Homo sapiens: one gene and its partner. The protein of the gene in region 1 interacts with the protein of each later gene in a biochemical or structural test. Each region holds a gene or a part of one and is shown in the gene's direction. Other genes may lie near its edges.

The links.
Region 2: the proteins of BGN (region 1) and TGFB1 form a complex in vitro, tested with the Homo sapiens proteins (one study listed by BioGRID).

The regions. Positions count from the first base shown.
Region 1 is NC_000023.11:153,493,292-153,497,784, forward strand, and holds the start of BGN (biglycan preproprotein), read left to right. Parts: upstream 1-1,688; 5' UTR 1,689-1,822; intron 1,823-2,082; exon of another isoform or gene 2,083-2,174; intron 2,175-4,493. UniProt on the Homo sapiens protein: May be involved in collagen fiber assembly.
Region 2 is NC_000019.10:41,340,271-41,344,070, reverse strand, and holds part of TGFB1 (transforming growth factor beta-1 proprotein preproprotein), read left to right. Parts: intron 1-1,823; coding exon 1,824-1,901; intron 1,902-2,037; coding exon of another isoform or gene 2,038-2,040; coding exon 2,041-2,188; intron 2,189-3,800. UniProt on the Homo sapiens protein: Transforming growth factor beta-1 proprotein: Precursor of the Latency-associated peptide (LAP) and Transforming growth factor beta-1 (TGF-beta-1) chains, which constitute the regulatory and active subunit of TGF-beta-1, respectively.

The DNA.
Region 1 (4,493 bases):
GCTGTCACTGAGCGGAATGTTTCCAAATGCTTCTCTCTCCACCCAGACTGCTAGTCAGGCTTCGCTGCCTGTCCCGCTCTCTACCGACATATTTCTCCACGAATGAGTTGGCAGTGGGGGAGGGAAAGAGGGTGGGACAGAGATGAGACCAGGCTGCCAAGAGTCGGACGCTGAGGCTGGGCAAAAGGTAAAACACACAAACCTGCCGAAAGACAAGCCATCTCCTTTGTCTGGAAAGGGCATATGTGGTCTCCAATCTCCTCATTCCAACCATGAAATCAAGAGAGAACCAGGGTTACCAGCCTGGCCCCTGGTTTCCCACGTCTCTCTTCTCCCTGGCCCAGTCTAGAAGCTTCTTGCAGGCAGGTACCACAGTTTGGTCAAGGTGCCATGCGTCCCAGGTCCTAGCCAGGCCCTGGGCTGCCGCTGGTGAACAGGAAGGGGGTCTGTGCCCTGCCATGCCCCCAGGTAGAGCTCCCCTGGGAGCATCCTCCCTGGCCTGGGACCTCCCAGACCCCACCCCCCGGTTGAGTGATGGCACTGCCAGGGGTTGAAGACCCTCAGCCCTCGACGTTGTCCTCTCTCCATTGGATGCCGCCTCTCTCTAGCCACCCCTCTCTCCCTCTCTGCCCCTTCGAGCTTTTTCTCTCAATATGCAATTTTCTCTTTTGGTCTTCCGCACTCTTGGCCCCCAGTTCTATTGCAGATCTGTTTCTCACTCCATCTAAACTCTTACCCCTGTGTCTCAGGAGCTGCTCTTGCTGAGGGAAGAAGGGGACACTACGGGACAGGGGGGCAGTGTCGTACTAAGGACCTGGGCTCTAGCCACTGGAGGAACTGGACTCATTTGGGCCCTCAGGAAGCGGCTGAGTCTTGGTGGGGTAACCCGGTTAGCCCCCGTAAGTGACCAGCACAGGGCTGAGCCCAGAGGAAGTGGCCACCCACAGAGTGGTTCTCATGTCCGAGGGGACCTGCAGGGATTGAGCAAGAAGACTGACTCGCTGGATCCTTCGTCTCTGAATCAGTTCAGGGCAGGCAAGCTGGGGAGCCCCCTGCCCCGTCCTGCCACCACCAGCCGGATCGGGCCCTCTTTTTAAGGGAAGAAAGTCTGGAGTGGAAGGGAGGGCACAGGGCGCCAGGAGCCTACATGAAGTCCTTCCAGAAATCCACAACAGCTACCTCTCTGATCCTGGAGAAACCACCTCCTTGCTTAGGCCCAAGCAGGTTCCTGGCAGGCTCAGGACCAAATTCCAGGGGCCACTCATGGGCCTAGCAGCCCAAGGCCGCCTCCCCCTCGTCTTTCTTCCATCTCTCTTTCCTCTGCCTGGCGAGATGCCAGCCAGCACCTCAGTGTCCCCATCTGGGCAGTGGAAAGTTTGACTCTCTGGGTCCTTGTTTGAGTGAGTGCGAGTGTGTCCGTTCCTTTGCTGTCTGCCCCAGGCGGGGGAGGGGGGGGGAGGTGGTGGGGGCGAGGGGGCGGGGGCTCAGCTAGTCCAGCCGTCTACAAGAAAATTGCTCCCTTTGAAGCTGCCAGGGGGGCCGGGAAGCCTGCCCCCTCCTGCTCGCCCGCCCTCTCCGCCCCACCAGCCCCCTCCCTCCTTTCCTCCCTCCCCGCCCTCTCCCCGCTGTCCCCTCCCCGTCGGCCCGCCTGCCCAGCCTTTAGCCTCCCGCCCGCCGCCTCTGTCTCCCTCTCTCCACAAACTGCCCAGGAGTGAGTAGCTGCTTTCGGTCCGCCGGACACACCGGACAGATAGACGTGCGGACGGCCCACCACCCCAGCCCGCCAACTAGTCAGCCTGCGCCTGGCGCCTCCCCTCTCCAGGTAGGGCTGGCTTCAAGCTGCCTCCTCAGCAACCCAGAGATGCCCCTGGCTCTGCTGCCTCCGCTGTCCCAAGCCCTGGTCCTGCTGTCCCCAGTGCCGCGAGGGTGTCCACAGATTTCCCCGGTGCTCTCTGTAGGCTGCTGATCCACGCCCCTTCATCGCCACCCTGCGGCCCCCTTGGTCCCTGTCAGGCTTCTGCCTCGTCTCGCCGCCCTCCAGGCACCTTTCCCTCACCCCTTCCTCTCCCTCTCCCTTCTGACCTTGCTCTGCTTCATCCACCTCTTGTCTCTCTGCCTCCCGCTCGGGGTCCGTCTTCTTGGCTACCACCCTAGAGCGTGGCTGGGTGACTGGTACCCCAGCTTTGCCAATGGCCCTGTTTCATCATTGCAAGTCCCAGGCGCATGCTCCACTCCCTCAGCCTCGCTCTGCCCAGGCGCCTCCTTGCTCCAGGGCTTGGCGCCTGGCCCGGGTTGGGTCGGATCGGGGAGGACCGCCCAGCGCCCACCGAGCTCAGCACCCAGGAGCAGTCCTCCGCTGCACTGCCTGAGGCCAGTCCTTGGCATGGGCTGAAAGACTTAGTTTCCCAGGCACACCCCAGGCACCCTGCCCAGATGTTCCTCGCTCGCTCACCCCCAGGTTAATGCTCTGCCTCTACATCCTCTGTGAGAAGTCTGGGTCCTGGGAGCCCTGGCTGCAAGGGCCCTGACTGGGGGTGCCTGGGTGGCTCAGCCCTGTCTGTTTCCAGGACCCCCTTGGACTGGGACTCAGAATGGGTGTGGAGGGGAAGGAGAGAAAATCAGGCAACTGTGCCATGCTCCCCAGGGCGGACCTGGCTTGGGGTCCCAGAGGGGCCTGCCAAGGGACCCAGGAGAGGGAGCGAGAGAGTGCCCTGGAAGGCCCACGGAGGGGAGCGCCCCCTCACTGCTCCATGGGCGGGGCTGGGTGCCTGAGCGCCTGCTGAGCAGAGCAGGGGGCCCAGGGATCTGCAGGGCACAGGGTACATCAGTCTCCAGTGGTCTGTCTTGGTGGGCAGGCCTCTCTCCTGCTGTCCTGGCTGCCAGACTGCTCAGGTCCCATCCTCAGGGGGTCCTGTTTCTGGGCCCTCGCCCCTCCCTGGCCTGCCAGCTCTCTGCCCTATAGCAACTAATTGGAACTGAGACAAGCTGGAGATGCTCAGCCCCCCTGCCCCCGTGCCAGAAAGGCTCCCGGGGACCAGCGCCCAGGGGTGCGGGTGAGCACCTCCTGGTGACACCCAGCCGCCGGTGCCAGCCGCACCCCAGGAGAGCTGGTGTATGAGCATGGATGTCTTGGTGCGGAGCATGCCCATGTATGGCCACTGTGGGCCAGCATGGTGAGCCTTTGAGGGCAAGCCCGTGTGGGTATATTGAAAGGAAGATGCAGGGCTGCCTCCAAGCCACCAGGGCTGGGCGGTGGGAGCAGGTTGCGAGCCAGGGAGCAGAGAGGGCTCCCATGGCAAGCTGGCCAGCTGTGGGTGGCAGCCCTGGCCTCCCTGGCCCACCTTCAAGCCCCAAGGACCCGTACGGCAGTGGGCATTAACCCTACCAACGCATAGATGGGGAGTCTGGGAAAGGAAGGGGGGTGTTTCCAAGGCAAGAATGAGTTTCCTGTCTTTAGCAACATTCCAGAGTCACTCAAACAAAGCTATAGCGTGTCCCTTCCAGTGACAGCGCCAAGTCCCCAGAGGAGGGGTTTGTAATGAGTTCACACTTGACAGTTAGCACTCAGAGCCTTCAGCAAGGGCTTCTGAGTCCTTGCCACCCCGTATAGAGGTGGGATGAGGACCTCCCCACCTGCCGTCTCCTGTGCTTCCCGGGCCCACCCCCCACCCCCCACCCCCCAGCATCTCCAGCCTGCCCGGGAGTCACATGTCCTCGGCCCACAGAATCCCCAGCACACGCCCCACCCACAGGCCTAGCCCCAGCCCTGGGGTCCCTGGCACCCCACCTGCCAGGGCCCCTCCCCTGCCTTGCTCACCCCCCAACACCCCTGCTTGTCGGAAATGTCTTCCCATGCCCACCACGACCCCCTCCCACTCATCTGTGGGCCGGAGAGCTTGGTCCCTGCCGCACGTTGCCCCCCTAGCATCCAGGCCCACCACCGAGCCCCCGACAGGCCTGGGAGCCCCACTGGTGGGTGGGGACCCACCAGCTGGGGGTCTTGCTCACACCGAGGGGCTGGGGGTGGCGGTGGCTTTCCCAGGGCACCCTGCCTTGGGCTGCAGGCCGCTGGGTGGGCACCGGCTCCCTCGGAAGGCAGCGCAACCCGGGATCCTGCCGGCCCTGGCCCCCACCCTGCCGACCGGGCCTGGGGCGATCAGTGCCCCAGCTCCTGTCCTCTTCTGCTCAGATGCTGGGTTGGGAGATCAGGGGCCACAGCTCGGCCACTCAGAGCCCTTTCCGCAAGTCTTAGAGGGACCAGCTGTGGGGTGTGTGCAGAGGGGCTGCGCTGTGGGGAGGGCGCATGGCTCAGTCCTCCTGGCCTGAGGCCCGCCTAGCCTAAGTGGCCTCCAGGACCCATGGCCAGGCCCTTCTGCAGCCTTCCAGAAAGAACCAGCTTCCCAGGGTTCCCTGGGGAAGGCCTGGGGCCACCTCCTCTGGAGGGGTGGGGCCTGTGCTTCATTCCTCCTTCCCCAGGTCCCCTTCCAGGCCAG
Region 2 (3,800 bases), on another chromosome or scaffold:
GTCGAGGCTGCAGTGAGTCATAATCACACTACTGCAATCCAGCCTACATGAAAGAGTGAGATCCCATCTCAAAAAAAAAAAAAAAAAAAAGATTCCAGGCAAAGGGAACAGCCTGTGCAAAGGCCTGGAGGCCAGGGAGAGCCTAACTAACTCATTTGATCTGTCCAGGAGATGATTGTCTCTGTCTGGTTTCTGGCAGGGCCCATGGTGCCCCTATCTCTCTCCCTCACCTCCCTCTCATTTATGCTTTTATTCAATAATTGCCCACAGGTTCCTGCTGTGTGCCTGGCCATGTGCTGGGTGGTGTGGGGGACATAGTGATAACCAAGACAGCCCTCAGTTCTGCCCTCATGGGGCCCACAGTCACTTCTGGACACCTAAGAGATCTTGTCAAGGCCCCACCAGGCAGGAATGACCTAGAATGATCAAGAATGGGATGGGGAGGCACCAGCAGGGAGGACAAGGCTGGGACAGGGAGGCATGCAGGATGGGGGAACGCCCTAAGTGCTGTTGGGAGCCCAGAGAAGGCACCTGGACCCATCTGGGGAGTCTAGGAGGGCTTGCTGGGTGAGGGTGATTGTGTGGAGACTCACAGGATAAATAGTAGTTTGGCCACATGAAAAAAAAGGGATTAGGGGGCCTGGCATGGTGGCTCACGCCTGTAATCCCAGCACTTTGAGAGGCCGAGGTGGGTGGATCACCTGAGATCGGGAGTTCGAGACCAGCCTGACCAACATGGAGAAACCCCGTCTCTACTAAAAATACATAATTAGCTCGGCGTGGTGATGCATGCCTGTAATCCCAGCTACTCGGGAGGCTGAGGCAGGAGAATTGCTTGAACCCAGGAGGTGGAGGTTTCAGTGAGCCAAGATCGTGCCATTGCACTCCAGCCTGGGCAACAACAGTGAAACTCCGTCTCAAAAAAAAAAAAGAAAAGAAAAAGAAAAAATAGGGATTAGGGAGCAGGTGGGCACTGGGAGGAGTGTCCTGGGCTGTTCGACAAAGGCCTAGAAGGAGCTCATCTGTCTTGGTCAATGCTGAGTCCCAAGCACACAGCACAGGCTTCGGCACATTGTAGGAGCCTAGAAAACATCATTCACTCATTCATTCAAGAGATTGATGCTGGCTGGGTGCAGTGGCTCATGCCTGTAATCCCAGCACTTCGGGAGGCCAGGGCAGGAGGATTGCTTGAGCCCAGCCTGGGCAACATAGTGAGACCTCTGTCTCTACAGAGAATTTAAAAAGTAGCCGTGTAGGCCGGATGCAGTGGCTCAAGCCTGTAATCCCAGCACTTTGGGATGCCAAGGCAGGCGGATCACCTGAGGTCAGGAGTTTGAGACCAGCCTGGCCAGCATGGTGAAACCCCATCTCTACTAAAAATACAAAAAATTAGCCGGGTGTGGTGGCGCATGCCTGTTATCCCAGCTACTTGGGAGGCTGAGGCAGGAGAATCGTTTGAACCTGGGAGGTGGAGGTTGCAGTGAGCTGATATCACGCCACTGAACTCCAGCCTGGGCAACAGAGCCAGACTCCATCTCAAAAAAAAAAAAAAAATTAGCCATGCGTGGTAGCACGCGCCTGTGGTCCCAGCTACTCGGGAGGCTGAGATGGGAGGATTGCTTGGGCCTTGGAGATTGAGGCTGCGAGACCTTGTCTCAAAAAAAAAAAAAAAAAAAAAAAGAGAGAGCTGCAGTGAGAGGGCAGAGTGGGGTGGGTGGGGGAGGCAGGAAGGAAGCCCCTGGGGTTTGCTCCTTCCTTCCTCTTCCTCCAGGGGCTGGGTGAGCTGCACTCTCAGACTGGCTTCCCTCTCGCCACTCCTACAGGGGAAATTGAGGGCTTTCGCCTTAGCGCCCACTGCTCCTGTGACAGCAGGGATAACACACTGCAAGTGGACATCAACGGTGAGGCCTGCTTCCCCGGCCATGCCCAGTTGTGACGTGTGTGCGTGTGTGTGTTCCCATCTGCCCCACGCCCCACTTATCTATCCCTCTGAGAGTGTGTGTGTATGTCCCCTATCCCCTGACTCCCACACCAAAGCAGGGTTCACTACCGGCCGCCGAGGTGACCTGGCCACCATTCATGGCATGAACCGGCCTTTCCTGCTTCTCATGGCCACCCCGCTGGAGAGGGCCCAGCATCTGCAAAGCTCCCGGCACCGCCGAGCCCTGGACACCAACTATTGCTTCAGGTGAGCCTTGTAGCCTGGATGGAGGCCTTCCAGGCTGGGGGCATGACTGCCATCTGCTGACCAGGTGCTCCAGGTTGGACACCTGGCTGCTGCTGTGCTTGGGCTGAGCATCTGTCTCCTTTAGCTTGGAGGGCTCAGGGGATGAGGTCTGGGTGTAAGAACCAGGAGTCTTGTGCCAGGTGCGGTGGCTCACGCCTGTAATCCCAACACTTTGGGAGGCTGAGGCAGGTGGATCACCTGAAGTGAGGAGTTTGAGACCTGTCTGGCCAACATGGTGAAACCCGTCTCTACTAAAAATCCAAAAATTAGCCAGGCGTGGTGGGCGCCTATAATCCCAGCCACAAAAAACAAAAAAAGAACTGGGAGTCTTGTAATGTTGGGATCAGGTTCCTTTTTTTTTTTTTTTTTTTTTTTTTGAGACAGAGTCTCGCTCTGTCACCTGGGCTGGAGTGCAGTGGCGCTATCTTGATTCACTGCAAGCTCCACCTCCCGGGTTCACACGATTCTCCTGTCTCAGCCTCCCGAGTAGCTAGGACTACAGGCACGTGCCACCACGCCCAGCTAATTTTTTTGTATTTTTAGTAGAGATGGGGTTTCACTGTGTTAGCCAGGATGGTCTCCATCTCCTGACCTCGTGATACACCCACCTCAGCCTCCCAAAGTGCTGGGATTACAGGCGTGAGCCAACGCGCCCGGCCTAATTTTTTGTATCTTTAGTAGAGACTGGGTTTCACCATGTTAGCCAGGATGGTCTTGATCTCCTGACCTCGTGATCCGCCTGCCTCAGCCTCCCGAAGTGCTGGGATTACAGGTGTGAGCCACCACGCCCAGCCTTGCTTTCTTGCTGGAGTGTTGGAATCACAGAATGTTAGAAAGTTGAACCCTGTGATTGTTGGAATTCAAAGTTGGAAGGTCACCATCTTGAATCCCTAAATTGTTGGCAGGTTGAGGTTCTAGAATGCTGGGATTCTAGAATGCTAGAATTTGGTGTTAATTACTGAAATGGAAAATGTCGGACTCAAGGAAAGCTGAAACATTGGAATCCTAGAATTTGGGGATTCAAAATGGGAAGATGGCCCATGTGGAATTCCTGCACCACTGGCCAATTGTGGATACCAGTGTTGGCAGATTGGAGTCCTTGAATATTGGGCTCACAGTGGTAGAATTCTGTTTTGAAATATTCACATCCACAAATGTTGGAGTTGGAGAAAGCAGAATATTGGTATCTCAGCATGTTGGAACTCAGTGTTGGAATGTTAGAATATTAGAATGCTGGGATTTTATTAATAGAAAGTGGCAGCAGGCTGGGCGCGGTGGCTCACGCCTATAATTCCAGCACTTTGGGAGGCTGAGGTGGGCGGATCCCTGAGGTCTGGAGTTCAAGACCAGCCTGGCCAACATGGTGAAACCCCATCTCTATTAAAAATACAAAAATTAGCCAGGTGTGGTGGCTGGCACCTGTAATCCCAGCTACTCGGCTGGGATTACGGCTATCCAGGTACCCAGGCTGGGGCAGGAGAATCACTGGAACCTCGGGGGTGGAGGTTGCAGTGAACCGAGATCGCGCCACTGCACTCCGGCCTGGGCAATGATGCGAGACTCCATCTAAAAA